Linked DNA regions of Homo sapiens. The protein of the gene in region 1 purifies or fractionates together with the protein of each later gene. This does not show direct contact. Each region holds a gene or a part of one and is shown in the gene's direction. Other genes may lie near its edges.

The links. Proteins that work in one complex are often made in the same cells at the same time.
Region 2: the proteins of TPD52L3 (region 1) and GABPA purify together in Homo sapiens (co-immunoprecipitation; 2 studies listed by BioGRID and IntAct, with this or other methods). This does not show direct contact.

Annotation. Positions count from the first base shown.
Region 1 is NC_000009.12:6,323,557-6,331,915, forward strand, and holds TPD52L3 (tumor protein D55), read left to right. Parts: upstream 1-4,818; 5' UTR 4,819-5,039; coding exon 5,040-5,406; coding exon of another isoform or gene 5,407-5,462; exon of another isoform or gene 5,463-6,625; coding exon of another isoform or gene 6,626-6,657; exon of another isoform or gene 6,658-7,364; intron 7,365-7,419; coding exon 7,420-7,463; 3' UTR 7,464-8,335; downstream 8,336-8,359.
Region 2 is NC_000021.9:25,765,475-25,772,960, forward strand, and holds the end of GABPA (GA-binding protein alpha chain), read left to right. Parts: intron 1-3,529; coding exon 3,530-3,758; 3' UTR 3,759-6,986; downstream 6,987-7,486.

The DNA of each region.
Region 1 (8,359 bases):
CTAAACACTGTTGCACTGAGGATTAACTTTCCAACACATAGGTTTTAGGGGACACTTTCAAACCATAGCAACAATCTATGCTTTTGCTGTAACTGCATGTAATTCAAGGAGAGTGTTGGTTGGGCTGAAGTGGGTGAAGGAGAGTGAGAAGCAAGTGGCAGTCTTATCCTTTTTCCATCCCCTACTCCATTTTAAGGCATCCCCCAAATTTCTAGATCATCACTAGAGAAACATACCTAGATCCACCAGTGTTTCCGCAAGCACTCCAGTCTCTGGAAAAAAATACAGTGTTTACAGATTCCTTGCTACTCTACATAGGTCTTTATATACAAAGCTTTTATGTTTCAACAAGAAGAACCCTCATTTTTTAATCTAGGGAAGTTCCTACATCATTTGATCATTTTTCTTTCCCTTCTTTCCATCCCTCATTCTCCTTATGATTCCTCTTCTACCTCTAAGACCTGAGGAAAAAAAAAAAAAAACTTCCTCCTTGAAAGCCCCTTCCTCCCTTACGTATTAACCCATGTAAATGGGCATGACAGAGGAGGGGAATACAGTTCTTCAGACACAACTGGACTCTGAATCTTAATTTGATTCCCCCAGTACCCCTACCACCATTATATACCACCAAAGAGGGTGAATAACAGCAATAAGCTCTAATGTTGATTTAATACACCGATAGTATATTTTGATGTCAGACAGGAAAATCCTAACCTATAGTACACCTAAGTATTTTTAAGCTAATTAGTCCAAATAGGAGAGCTGCTGAAAGAAAATATCATCCTCATCCTAAATGAAGATCAACTTAACCACTGAAATATGAAGACTGATAGCAGTAATGCTTGCTGTTGTAAACTGCAGTCAATATTCCTGTTCATGCTGGAGAATATGGAGAGGTGACTACATATATTATTGATGGAGCTGGGCTATGATGTGAGATAGTAGTGAAAATAACTTGCAAATTGAAATCAAATATAATATTCTGGCTTTCCACAAGAAAAGCCCAACTACCAATTTTCTCTTACTCTTAAAACATTCTGACTGGAGTAGGGTTTCAGCTATGTGCCTTATTTTCAGGCTTAATTAGATATTTAAGTATTTTTCCTTGCATTCAGCTAGAATTATAGTAGTTGAACACCAGAAAAAAAACTGTTTAAATATTAGAAATAAAGCCTTAGAGAACTCACTAGGTTAAATCTAGCAGTGCAAATGACCAGACTGCAAGGTGAGTTGTCAGTTCTTTAGAAGCAATCTGAATCATCAATGTAATCAGAAAGCTCTATATTGATCATTTATAACAAAATAAGTCAAATGGTTAAAACTGCCGGCACTGATACAAGTTCCTAATCATTTCCAAACTTGAGTATCACTCACTACGATCTAACTTCTTCTATTCCCAAATAACCCAGACCTGCTGGAGGATATGGCTTTGTTTTCATATTCAAGCTTTAGGAATTTATTTATAGAACATAATATATACAGGCTTCTACATATAAAGAGAAAAAATCATTTTATTATACCACTTACCTTTACTTTACAAAAGATCAGTGTAATCCATCACCCTTACTAGAGACATAACTCAGTTCTTTCTTTATCAAAAATGGGTCAGTGGTGTCCTCCTTGGAAACAAAGGATATCAAACCACTGTAGGATTACAAATAATCTCAAGCTTTTTCTTTATAGTTCCTGAATCAAATACTTTGGCTATTTTTAGTATTTAAATAAATAGCATCAAAAAGCTTTCAGTTTTATATGAAAAGTTTTATGAGCCTTTCTGTGTAATATAGAGGATTCCATTGTCTCATCTAGAGATGTGAAATTTTACAATTATGGGGTGAGTGTTTGGTATTTTACACCTTAAAAGGATAGCTTATACAAACAATTGGTTACTATCACTATAAATTAAATAAAATTTCATTTGATAGATCTATGTTTTCAAAACATAAATATTGTTTCGTATGTGCTTATGCATAAGCCTAATAAAATGGATTGTTCCATTGTATTACTTCTTTAGCCAGGTTTACTCAGGAGATCAGAACACTGCCAATAAGGAGCATCCTTTCCAGAGGCTATTGTCTTTTTTTTTTTCTACTTTTATTTTAGATTCAGAGGTACATGTGCAGGCTTGTTACTTGGGTATATTGTGTGATGCCAAAGTTTGGGTTATGAATGATTTAATCACCCAGATACTGAGCAGAATACCCAGTGGTTAGTTTTTCAACCCTTCCCCCACCCACCCACTTCCCCCTCTAGTAGTTCCCAGTGTCTATTGTTGTCATCTTTATGACCATGAGTATCCAATGTTTAGCTCCCATTTATAAGTGAGCACATGTGGTATTTGGTTTTCTGTTCCTGCATTAATTCACCTAGGATAATGGCCTCCAACTGCATCCATGTTCCTGGAAATGACATGATTTCATTCTTTTTTATTCCTGTGTAGTATTTCATGCTGTATATATACCACATTTCCTTTATCCAATCCACTATTGATGGGCACCTAAGTTGATTCCATGTCTTTGCTATTGTGAACAGTGCTGTGATGAACATATGAGTGCATGTGTCTTTTCAATAGGATGATTTGTTTTCTTTTGCATATACACCTAGTAATGGGATTGCTGGATTAATGGTAGTTCTGTTTTAAGTTACTTGAGAAATCTATAAACTGTTTTCCACAGTAGCTGAATTTACATTCCCACCACAAGTGTATAAGTGTATAAGCATTTCCTTTTCTCCATAGCCTTCTTAACATCTGTTGTTTTTTGACTTTTTAAGAATAGCCATTCTGACAGGTGTGAGATGTTATCTCATTACAGTTTTGATTTGAATTTCTCTGATGATTAGTGATGTGGAACATTTTCTCATATGTTTTTTCATATGTTTGTTGGCCACTTGTATGTCTTCTTCTGAAAAGTGTCTGTTCATGTCTTTTGTCTATTTTTTTTTTTTTTTTTTTTTTTTTTTTTTTTTTTTTTTGAGACGGAGTCTCGCTCTGTCGCCCAGGCTGGAGTGCAGTGGCGGGATCTCGGCTCACTGCAAGCTCCGTCTCCCGGGTTCACGCCATTCTCCTGCCTCAGCCTCCCAAGTAGCTGGGACTACAGGCGCCCGCCACTACGCCCGGCTAATTTTTTGTATTTTTAGTAGAGACGGGGTTTCACCGTTTTAGCCGGGATGGTCTCGATCTCCTGACCTCGTGATCCGCCCGCCTCAGCCTCCCAAAGTGCTGGGATTACAGGTGTGAGCCACCGCGCCCGGCCACATTATTGATATATAGAAATGATACTGAATTTATATCCTGAAACTTTACTGAAGTCATTTATCAGTTCCAGGAGCCTTTTGGTGGAGCCTTTCGGGTTTTCTGGATATGGAATCATATCATCTGAAAAAGAAATAATTTGACTTCTTATTTTCCTATTTGAATGACAGGGTATGTCTTGATGTGGGATCTGGCAACTAAGTGTCTGAAAAGCTCAGTTTTGCTATGAGAAAAAAAACCATTCTCTGTCAAAAGGAATCAAGGCTTAATAAAAGATTTCATAGTATACACTGAAGGATGAGGAAGCTTATAAAGAAAATAGGCATCAAGGTTGGTGGTTGAAATAATACAGAGAAGTAAAATCAAGTGCAAGTTCAGATTTGGTGATTTGGAGTCTCAACTTTGAAGAGACAATGTGTGTTCTATATTATGTAGCATAATTCAGGGATTTCTTTACCCTTTAGTCTCAGGTTTGAAAGAGGAGTTCTGATTCAGAGTCTGGGAGTGTTCCTGAAACCACTAGTGTTTCTACAGGCAATAGAGGAAAAGTCTACCCTCTGGAACAAATTGGTTTTTAGGGAGTCCTTGCTGCCCTTTTCAGGCCTTTAAACACATAGCCAAATCCTCCATCAGCCTTCATGTTTACAAGAACAATTCTCACTTTTTAACTTAGGGAAACACACCACTCAGGACAAGGCAATAATAAACACTACTAAATTATGTGAAAGGGTTATAGAACATAAACTCAAAGGAGGGCTGAAGTTGGTTTGAATGCACAGCTGGATGCTTCATTGTAGCCACATAGGCATGAGTAGGGCAAACTGCTGAAATTTGCTGAGGATCAAATTATGTTCCACAAGATCATGCTCGCAAGAATTACAAGAATATCCAACAAAATCACTAGAGTCTAAGACTTGCTCAAGAATATTCTCTGAGAATAGGCAGCCATAGAATGAGCTAAGTGAAGCTCGACCACAAGACCTCACTGGATTAACGTCCTGATTTTTCCATTGCATAAGTTTACTCTCGGCAGAATTACGGTTGGGGGGAGGTTGGGGTGGCAGGTTGGCAGGGGAGAGTGGATCCACACTCTGATAGATCCTATTTAACTAGTTTTACTTTACTGTGCAGACTACCTCCCACAACAGGTAACCTTGAATGTAGGCAGACATGCTTCCAGAAATGTGAGTGGAGGTAGGGCGGAATAAAGAAAATGCAACTGCAAAACTGAAAATTCATACTAGCACAATGATGTTTAAATGATTTTCAAGTGTTGGAGCTGGTGTGGTGGAAAACAGTTGCCTGACGCTTTGGTTTGAAGGCCAGGGCTTGTCATTTACCATGTCAGGAGAAATTCCTCTCTTTTCGACAATAATCTCTGCACTGCCTACCTCAGGAGGTCCTCGCAATGCCAAAATGCCGCCAGTGTGGGTTGCGCCTCAGCTGAGCACTGATTCTACAGCCTCGCGGTTTGGGCGGGAAGTCCCACCTCCGCAACCCTGACCAGCCCGGCTCCCCACCCCCACCACCCGGAAGTGAACACCACGAGCTAGCGTGTCTACTTCACAGGCCAGGTCGTCAACTCAACTGTCAAGGTGTCCATTGTACCAGCTGGGCCATGGATCCCTCCCGCCTGAAATCTGACTCCACCTGCCAAGAGTCTGAGCCTGCAGGCCTAGATTTCGACTCTGCTGGCCAAGATTATTTCTCTGCAGCCCAATAATTCGACTCTTTCTACCAAGAATTGGACCTGGACTCTCTTAACGAAGATCTTCTTTCCCAGTCCATGCCACATGCCAGGACAGAGACCTCTGTGGGCACATATGAATCCCACTCGACTTCTGAACTGGAGGATCTGACAGAGCCCGAGCAAAGAGAGCTCAAAACCAAACTCACTAAATTGGAGGCTGAAATTGTAACCCTACGCCACGTACTAGCAGCCAAAGAGAGACGCTGTGGGGAACTCAAGAGGAAGTTAGGCCTCACCGCCTTGGTAGGGCTGAGACAGAATCTGTCCAAGAGCTGGCTTGATGTTCAGGTCTCCAACACCTATGTGAAACAGAAGACATCAGCTGCTCTGTCCACCATGGGCACTCTCATCTGCAGGAAGCTTGGAGGCGTGAAGAAGTCGGCCACATTCAGATCTTTTGAAGGTCTGATGGGGACAATCAAGTCCAAAGTCTCAGGGGGCAAAAGAGCTTGGCCCTGACTGTCTTTCTTCTGCGGAGGGTGGGGTTGATCTGCTCTCAGTTTTGGGGTGTGGGGAAGACCCACTCCAGATTCCGGGGAGTGGGAATGAGCCACTCCCAGTTCTGGAGAGTGAGGATGACCATCTCCACTTTCTGGAACCAGAATGAGCCCCCTTGGTAACCTTGCCTGGTACTAAACCAGTGCAAGGACCCCCTTCCCTTATTACATTTGCAACTCTGCCCAACAAAAACAAGCAAGCAAACCACAATGGTAAAGTGGTTAATTCAGGAAATTGACAGAATCCAGTTTTGAGAAAAGAACACAGATATTTGCTGCTTTTAAGATAGAGAACCCAAAGTTTTGTACCTGGTTATTTTTCACTTAAGTTTGTAGACGAAATGTGCCATTATATTAGCTTTCCTGAGACTGTATCTAATGGGCAAGTCAGTGGCTCCAGAGGGGTCTTAGGCCAAAGCCCAAACTCTCTTTTGGAAAACTAGCTTATTAGAAAGCCAAAGTAGAGTTCTGTTTAAGCTTGAAAGAGGTATGAAGTAATCTGTAGTGTTTTTTTGGTTTGTTTGTTTGTTTTCCCTTCCCCATTTCCTTCCTTCCCTCAGTCTCAAAGTCACCTTGAAAGCTTCACCTGGCCTACAACTTTTATTTTAAAAAGATGATCAAGAAAACTTCATCTTCTCTGAGACTCAGAAAAAGAGGGGAAAATAGTGGTAGTGCACTAATTGTTACATTACTAATATAGCTTTTGTAAAACTCGTTTGTTTTCAAAGGTCTGGACTAAGCAAAACAACAGTGTCAGTTTAGGAAATTATTACTACTTTGAACACAAACTGAAATTGCAACTTTGCCTTGTGCTTTGTTTATAATTTCTTTATATATCAAAATGAGTGTTTTAAAGTTTAACCCTTGAAGCAGCATGTCTTTGCCATAGCAGCACTTCACTTAAAAGGAAGAAATTGCCTCTCTGGCAGCAATTCCTAGTTAGTTACCACCTCCAGCTGAGGGGCTGGAGGAAAACAGGTATAGCCAAATTCAAGAAAGATAAACCCCTGTCTCAAGGAACATTTTAAAAAGAACGTCTGTCCCCTGTGATGCTGGCTGTTATGCCTTTGAATGGACCTAACTATACATCTTTGCTCTTAACTCCAAGTCTGCCCTTCTTTTTAGGAAACCCTAAAGGAGAAGGAAGCAGAATATAACCCTCTGGAGAGCTCAAGACAGTAGGAACCTGGACGGTGCTTGTTTGAATTTTCTGATATCTGATTTTCACACGAATATACTTTTTGTTTGTTTTCCTTTTCCATTTTCAAAATGCCAAGATCTGGGAGCCTCTTTCACTCCTCTAGACACACTGCCTGAGATAGAAGTTTGCATCTTATTGGCTGTGGGCAGAGACTAGGACCCTTATGGGTACATTTCAGTAATCTCTCACTGCCTAAAATGGTAATCCCTCCAGCCTAAGAGGATGATTCTGTTTTGTTGACTCTTGAATGCTCCCCCAACATTCCTTTGGTTTTCCTATAAGCAAAACCAAATACCACTATAAATACAAAAGCATCTGGTAAACTGTAAAGTTACTCATGTATCCCAACCCTCCACAGATTTCTGAAGACAAAGTTTTGCTTGGATTAAAACAAGATGTTTTACTATTTTGCATGTTCGATTTTTAATTTGTTGTGTTTATCAACCAAAATGGCTTTGTATGCTGGAGAACAAGAGGTGAGCCTGCAGCATACAAGAAATGAAAGTAGTCCAACAGGCAAAGGCTTTGACATATTTCAGGAAGGCTTGTGTTAGGGACAATCTCAGACTATTATCATGGGCCAAACCTGAGAGATGTTATATTTTATTTAATAATTTCTACAACAGTAGTAAGTTTCCCCAATAAATTCTCAACTCCGTAAAAGTAGTAAAGTACATATTTATTTTTGCTGATCATTGTTTTCCCATTTCTGGCTTAGGATTGATCTTCAATAAATACACGTTAAATCAAGGAAGGAATTAACATCATATACTTCAGACATCAAATATGGAATCCAAGAGACTATCAACAACATGAACTTGTTCACAAGTTCCTTCTGCTTTTAAACAAAAATATCGTGTTTATTCAAAGCCAATCTGAGACCCTACTCTGTATCAAGAACTGTCCCAGGTTCTGAAAGCATAGAATTAGACATCGTATGTGCCCTCTAGAAACACTTAGACTTTCAAATCATTATAATTCAATGAGTCCTAAAATAGAGCTGTGTGCCAGAGATAAAAGAAGTCCTGAGGAAGGGGTGTTCAACTCTGTCTTGGTAGGTCAGTAAAGACTTTAGAGAGACAGAAAGTCTTAGAGGACTAGGAGAAGTTTGCCAGACAGACAAGAATAGAACATTCCAGACAACATGCAGAGGAACTGAGTCACAAAGGAATGTATAAGAATGGCATATTCTAGGAACTAACACTGTGGCTAGAGAGGAAGGGGAAATGGTGTTACATGAGTGAGGGAGGGGAAATGGTGTTACGTGAGTAAGAAAAAATAAGCAGGGGGCAAAATCATAAGTAGTCTTACATACTACATTAGATATCAATATTTAAGCCTGTAGGAAATGGGAGGCATTGAAGCACTTAAGTAAAAAAGTAACTATCAAATTTTTGTTTTAGATTACTCTGGTCATCAGAGAAATAGATTAAGTATTTAAGAGGTAGAATCTCTCAGACTTAGGAACCAACTGCATGAGGCGGGGCTTGGGGGGATAAATTTGCAAGATAATAAGGATGTAGAATTGAAAAGGCCTGATATTATTGAAGCTGGAGTTGCACATTCATTTTGCTTTGGCTTTTTTGTATCAGTGGTCATGGGCACCAAATAAAATGCTTCCATGAACATTTGGATTCTGGCTCTAAAGTTTCCTCGAG
Region 2 (7,486 bases), on another chromosome or scaffold:
ACACACTCTCCCTTCCCCTTTCCATCCCTTCATCTCAGTATCCCAATATAATTATATGGAAATTTTGGTTCAGCGAGTATTCATTGTTACAGTATTACGGCCATGTAACTATTATTACATAGTTGGCTGTGATTATTTTTCTTTTCCTGAATGACCCTTTTTTTCTCAGAGTTCATGAGTAACTAAAATGTTTAGTTTTCAAAATGCTTATCCTTTACCATTCAGTCTCAAACACATTGCCAACTGTCTAAAGATTCTTCGTTTATAATCATAATTAAAGCTGCCATTTTTGAGAGTTGATACAGATTGTATACATACAAGTCCCCTCAAAATTACAGGTAAATTGTTAGAGTTAATAATTAAGATGTCAGTTCCCCCCCAGATTGATCTAAGTTTCAGTGCAGCAACTTAGTTTAATTTGAAAAATCAAACTAAGTTTTTCATAGAACTTGAGAAGATAATTGTAAAATTTACATGGGACTATAAAGTACCATGGTAGTCAGGACACCTGAAGATTAGCAAAGTGGAAAGACTTGTCCCACAGGATATTGAGACTGACTCTAAAGTTACAGTAATAAGACAGTTATGCTATTTTCTCAAGACAAATAGGCCATACAGTAGAATAGGGAGCCAAAATAGAACCAGGAATATGTAAGCATTTGATTTAAAGAAATGGCAGTGGGGAGAAAACATATGAGGAAACGACCTGCTTTTCAATAATCAGTGCTGGGATAATTTACTCTCCATCTCTGGGGAAAAGTAAAAGTTGACCTCTTGCTTATGCCGTACCAAAAATCAATTCCATGTAGCTTGTAGCTCTACATGTAAAAAGTAAAATAGAAAAGGATCTAGAAATACTTTCATAACTTCTGGTGGTAGGGAGACATTTAAACAGAATCAAAAGGACTAATTCTAAAGGGAAAGATCAATAAACTGGACTATATTTAAATTAGGAATTTCTGTTCGTTGAAAGCCTTATTAAGAGAGCCACACATGTCGGACAGAAGTATCTAGAATATCTAACCAATTCTTACAAATCAATTTTTTAATGGGCAAGAGACTTGAATAGACACCTCAGGCTAGAGATTATCCAAATGGCCAATGAATATATGCAAAGGTGTACGGCCTCATTAGTATTCAGAGTAATGCAATTGAAAACCATAATTAAATGGTACAACTCACCCCCTAGAGTGGCTACAATTTAAAAGATTGCCAGAACTAAGCTCTGTTGAGGATATGGAGCAATGGGAATGCTTCTACCCTTTTGATAGGAATGTAAATTGTAACAGTTGCTCCCCTAAGCAACTGTTTCATACACATCAAACAGAGATGTACTTCTATGCCCATACACATGTTCATAGCAGATTATTTATAACATCCAAACCCCAGAAACAACCAGATATCTATCAACAGTAGAGTGAATGAATCATTTATGGTATATTCATACAAGAATACCTTGCATTCTTGAAAACTAAGCTCCTGCTACAAACAATGACCAGTGAACCTCACAAACATAATGTTCAGTGACAGAATCCAGACCCAAAAGACCAAATTCTGTATGATTACATTTATTTAGTAAAGTTCAAAAAACAGGAAAATTAAATTTCAGTATTTAGGGATGCATGTTTGGGTGATAAAAATATAAAGAAAAAGCAGTCAAATTACTATCATGATACAGGCTTGTGTTTACCTTTTAGAGCCAGGATTTGGGGAGTGATTGGGAGGGGACATAAAGGGGATTCTAGATGCTGGCAGTGTTCTGTTTCTTGACCTGAGTGATACTTAACAGGTGAGTGAATGTTCACTTTGTAATAAATCACTGAACTGTTCACTTCTGTGTCCTTTTGTTTGTGTGATATATTTGCAATTAAAAAGTTTAAAAAAATACAAGTTTAAAAAAAAAGAGGGAAGAAAAGAAATCATATCCATGAAATACAGGTATTGTGTATCTTTCATTTTAGGGAGGCAACAAGTGGAATAAATGCTACTATATACAGTTGTGTGATGCATCTACTAGATCAAAAGAAGTATTCAGTAAAATTCAAATTTATGTGTGTATATTCTTTTTTATCACCTCTTACCAAGAAATATGATTATGCCAACTCCATTTTCCTCCTAGAATTATAAAACCTCTTTCCTTTTCCATTTTCCTTTTTTTCCCCACGTATAGTCTTACATATTAATGTAGAAATTTTTTAAAGCAATTGATATGCCTATAGCATTTTTAACTGGATGGCAAGGAATTGTTGGTTTATGAGCTGAAATCCAAATTCTGTACTAATGTAATTGACATAAATGGAAACTACAAGACTGCCCAATGTGTTATATCTCTTACTGGGAAATCAAACATAACTATTTTTCTTTTGCTATTCTGGAATTAGGGAAAGATGACAATTTCCTGTATATAGGTCAGTCCTTTCATTAATAGACTCTTGATTAAGCCAAGTGACTTTTATCCTGCTAAATGTGATAGTTTATATCTGGTACTTTTGCAAATAGTTGTTTCTTTTATAATAGCCCTTTGTCAGTGGGCAGTGCAATTTTAAAATAAGGGCTTTGCAATCTGCCAGTCGTGGAAAGAGCTTGACTTGCCTCTTTTTCCTGTTGTTGGAATTAGCAATACATAGTGTGTGTTTAAATAAAGTCTGTTTTCCAAAGGAAACATAAATCCAGCTCCATTTGCATCTCTATAGAATGCAGCAGTAAACTAGATTTCTAGAATGATTGCCGGAACTCTGCTTGTGTACGTTTAGAAACATTGTCTCTTTGCAATGTCCTTTACCTGTTTTTCTGTATCCTCTGTTTCTTTTAGACCTTTTCCTTAGACTTAAAGCTCCCTATTGGGCTTGGATAATTTATCTGAAATTTGGAAAGCGTTTACATAGTGAAATAATAAAGATGAAGACATGACTTCATCATATAGGATTCTTTACAAGACAGAAAAGAAGTGGAATATATGTATTAATTTTTTTTATATTATCGATTTTTATTAACATAGCTTATATTTTGTAGAGGGCTGTGTGCCAGTCATTGTATACTAAGCACTTTACAAAGATTATCCCTTTAATCCTCAACAATGATATGAGGGTATAAGCACTGTTAACCTCACTTTATAGATGAGGAATAAAAGCTTTGAGAAAATATGACTCCTGTGGTCTCAAAAATGTTAGGTTTTGAATCTTGGCTTTCTGACTCCAAAGCTCTTGTTCTTAGGCTCTTCTACTGCTCTCAAGGTTTTTTGTTTTGTTTAATAATTATTTTTAAATCAATGTTTTATTCTAATTGTTGAAAATATGTTTTGAAAGTTTAATGTATAGAGTTTTGGAGTAGTGAGCATTGAAATTTTAGTAAATAATGTTGGGATGTTTCATTTGATAGTAGCATTAAATATTCTACATAGCTTCAATATTAATTGCTATTGTGGCGGATGCAGTACTCTACTAGGCTTCTGCTTATGGAATAGTCTGTAAATTATTGTAAGAAGTCTCATTTTTTCTGAAGTCTCTAATTTTTTTTTCTCTTTTTGAAGATATTATTACGATGGGGACATGATTTGTAAAGTTCAAGGCAAGAGATTTGTGTACAAGTTTGTCTGTGACTTGAAGACTCTTATTGGATACAGTGCAGCGGAGTTGAACCGTTTGGTCACAGAATGTGAACAGAAGAAACTTGCAAAGATGCAGCTCCATGGAATTGCCCAGCCAGTCACAGCAGTAGCTCTGGCTACTGCTTCTCTGCAAACGGAAAAGGATAATTGAGCCCCAGGACATTCTGAGACTCCAAAGTCTTTCTTAAAATGTTTAGAGCAAGTATAGCTCTTACCTTTATTACTGAATTTGAATCTTCTTTTATTTCTAGGCTGTACAGTCTGATGCATGATTTTTTTATAAATATTTCATACTCTTGTGAATTTGGATCTTTTTACTTTGAGCATATATTTTAGAATATGTGTATGTTAAAGGATCTCCACAATGTCTGCAGTGTGAAGGCAGGTTCATTGTGGAATAGTTTAACAGTCAGGAAGGCTAAACTGGTCAGTATTAATGTGTAGCCCTACCAAAAATAGCCAGTAGTATCTGAAAATGAAAAATAAATGAAGTATCTCTAGGAAACAGTCTGGCTTAACTATTTTTGAAAATATAACTGTTTCCCCTCTCTGCTGCTTTAGATGTTGCTTTACATAGAACCAGAAAATGGAATTTCTCAGCTAAAGCATGTGTGCCTGTTTCATCTAATCAAGCAGAGCTAAAATGTTCATACCGAATAAATTTATATTAATAAATTACTAAACTAAGAGTATCAGGTTATTTATATATTTGCAAGCAAAGGACAGTAAGAAGTTGACTGGCAAAAGAGCAGTGCTGAAGGAGGAGATCCAGGTTTAAATCTGGCTTATTAACTCAAGCCAATTTTAAGGATTTTCTGTATAGATTACTCATGTCAGACCAAGAATTTAAATTATTTTGAGAGAGGCATTTAATTCTAATAAACCAGCTGTTATAAAAATTATAAAATGATCTCTGTTTTTCCTGTCAGAGATTTAAAAAACTGAAAAGGTATACCTCAACCCAAAAATAAAGGTTTGTTTTGGTTTGTTATGGCTTCCTTTTTTAAAAAATTACCCTGTAGTGCCAGTTTATTATGCAAAGCAGCTTATATTCCTTTGTTTCTGATAAAATGAAGACTTTAAATCAGTCAGTAGTACTTTACCTTTCAAGGCATTAGTAAATTACTTGCAAATAGTTTTAAAAGGAAAATACGACCTTTGTTATAGGCAGTCTTCTCTTTAAGACAATACTTTTCCACTTGTTTTCCTTTTCCATATTATATATGTGTATTCATATAGCTGTATACATATTCAGTTGATCATTTTATAAACATATGAAGGCATAAAGATATACAGAAGAAAAATTATTAAACAACTCATTTTAAGATTCAAATTAACTAATTCCTGCATATATGACATTCCTTACATAAGCGAACACTAAACAAAAATGGCTAGAAATGTCTTTTTCTTTCTTTTCTCTCTTTGTTGTTTAAGGTATTAAGCACGAATTATTACATGAGACTGGCAGATAGCTATTAATCCTCTTACAGATTTGAGAAAGTTGATTCTCAAATATTTATGCACCTTCTCCTTCATTGTTTTCTTTAAATCTGTCCTCTTAAAAAGCTTCTTAAGAGCTCAGTTAATGCTTTTGACTTAACTAGGAGAAAAAGGCATGATAATACAGGCAAGATGGCATTGTTAGCAATTCTGGTAGTGGTTTGGAATGAATCCTAAGAGGCAGGGATCTTAAGGACAAGGAAGAGAAGAGAGAGAGGGAGGGATCTTTGATCTCTTTCTCTGGTAATCTTAATGCATAATTTTACTAAAACATGTTCTCAATTCATTCATATTATTAAGCTCTTCCTGCAGTTGATATCTGAGCAGAGTAAGATTTGTATTTCCATTTTTACTTTTTTGAAAGAGAATATATGGACAGATTATTAGTACAATTTGGGCACTGTGGTTTTAAGAATATCTGAGTAAAATAACAATATGAAATAATAAACAGAAGCTCTAACGTCAGGTAACAAATAGACAGCAAGAAAGGTTTTGCACCATCCTCTTACGGCCTAGAGAGTTGACAAGTTGCTTGTAGTTTTAAAAAAATAATAAAGTATACCCTTCTGGTATATCATCAAGAGCTTAAGAATCTTGGCTTTCATATTTAAAATGCTTTTGGGGAGACATATATTAAAATTTTAGCCAAGATGATAGACATGTCTCAATTATATATGTGTGTGTATGTTTTTAAAGCTAAAAACATTACTTTTAGATCCCTAGAATGAAAATTTTTTTCTCATCTATGCAATTCCCATATGGTTTTTTTTTAAATCATATTTTATTCATTTTCTCCCTTTAGCAATTTTCATTTTATTTCTCATAATTTGAACAGAGACAGTTCTCATACATGATCAGATGCTTTTTTTTTCTTCTTACCATCATTTATGCATGACATAGGTAATGTGACTAATTTCTCCAGTTGATTCAAGAAACTCATTACTTTGCCTCAAATTATATGTAAAATATTTGTTTTACTTAGGTTACAGTTATCAGAAAGGTAGTTTTTTTCTTCTATTAAAATATAACATTGTGAAAGAAAATAAAATTTATGCTATTCTTTGCTTTGTTTTTATAAATGAATTTTTCATAGAATTTACAGTATATTCAAAGGAAGAAAGATAAAATTATTGGTCATCATTTGTACCTTAGAAGTACAAGAATTTAAGTAAAAGAAATGTTCATTTTTGTTTTAAAATTTGTTTTCCATGTGAAGTTTTTATTGAGCCAACTTTCATACATATCTTGCTAGCCTAAAGTCTAAATATTTGTGTTGGCATCAGAAAAACAAATGAGGCAGAATTGCTATGTGTGGTTGATCTTCAGATAAATTGACTGATCACAGTTATTTTTGTATCAGTCTATGTTATTAGGAAAAATTGTTTAGTTGTTTTCTCCCCTGATTAATGGTGATATTCAAGTATGATACAAAAAGAATTGTACCACCAAATATTTTTGTGAGGTCTGCTGTTTTCCATATTCATTTTATGCTACTGCCTTTAAGAAAGAACTAGTGTATCCTTGAAATAGCACAAAAATGTTTTAAAATTCATAATTGCAAAACAAATCTGTGACTAACTTAATGTCTTCAGATCTAAAGGGTGTAAAAATATTGATACTTCAATATTTCACTTGCTGCCAGGAAAAACAAAATTCTCAATCTTTTGTAAATGGGAGGAGGACTTTTGCATACATTTTTACTCTTTAAATAACGACAACGACACTTATACTGTCATAATAACAATTATGTATTTCTTTGTGGTTTTAATTTTTTTTGTAATTTTACATAAAACAGTTATTTTCTATTTTTACGCAGATAAATATTTGTGCATAAAATGTAAAAATAGTAAAATGAGAAAAATAAAACTATTATACAGTATGTTTCTGTGTTGCTTAAAAGTTTTTTTTCCTGAAAACAAAATCTTAAATCCCCAGGATATTTTGTTGGATAGTAATCTGACAGTCCACTTATGATACGTTGTACATAGGATTCCGATGCATTTTTAAACTTAAAAGCTGTCAATTTGGGAAGAACATATTTCACTGAACTAAAATTAGTAGGTTCATCTCTTTGAGGAAATTAATGAAATTCCATCTACAAAGCCAAGTTGTTTTAGAATAGTAACAGATGAAGCTGTCAGAAGGCAAGCTGATGATTGCTAAATTGTAAACCTTTCATAAAGCCTTTTTTTTTAACAAACAAAAAATCACCTGTTCATGTTGGCTATCAGCAGGTTGCTTCAGCCAGAATCAGAATATAGAAGAATGGAAAGGGTTAGGAAAAAGTGATTCATGCCTGCCTTCATGGTGAAGCAATGATGAAAGTTTGATTGACATGCTTAAATAGGAAGTTATGGTTAGAAATAAATGGCTTTAAAA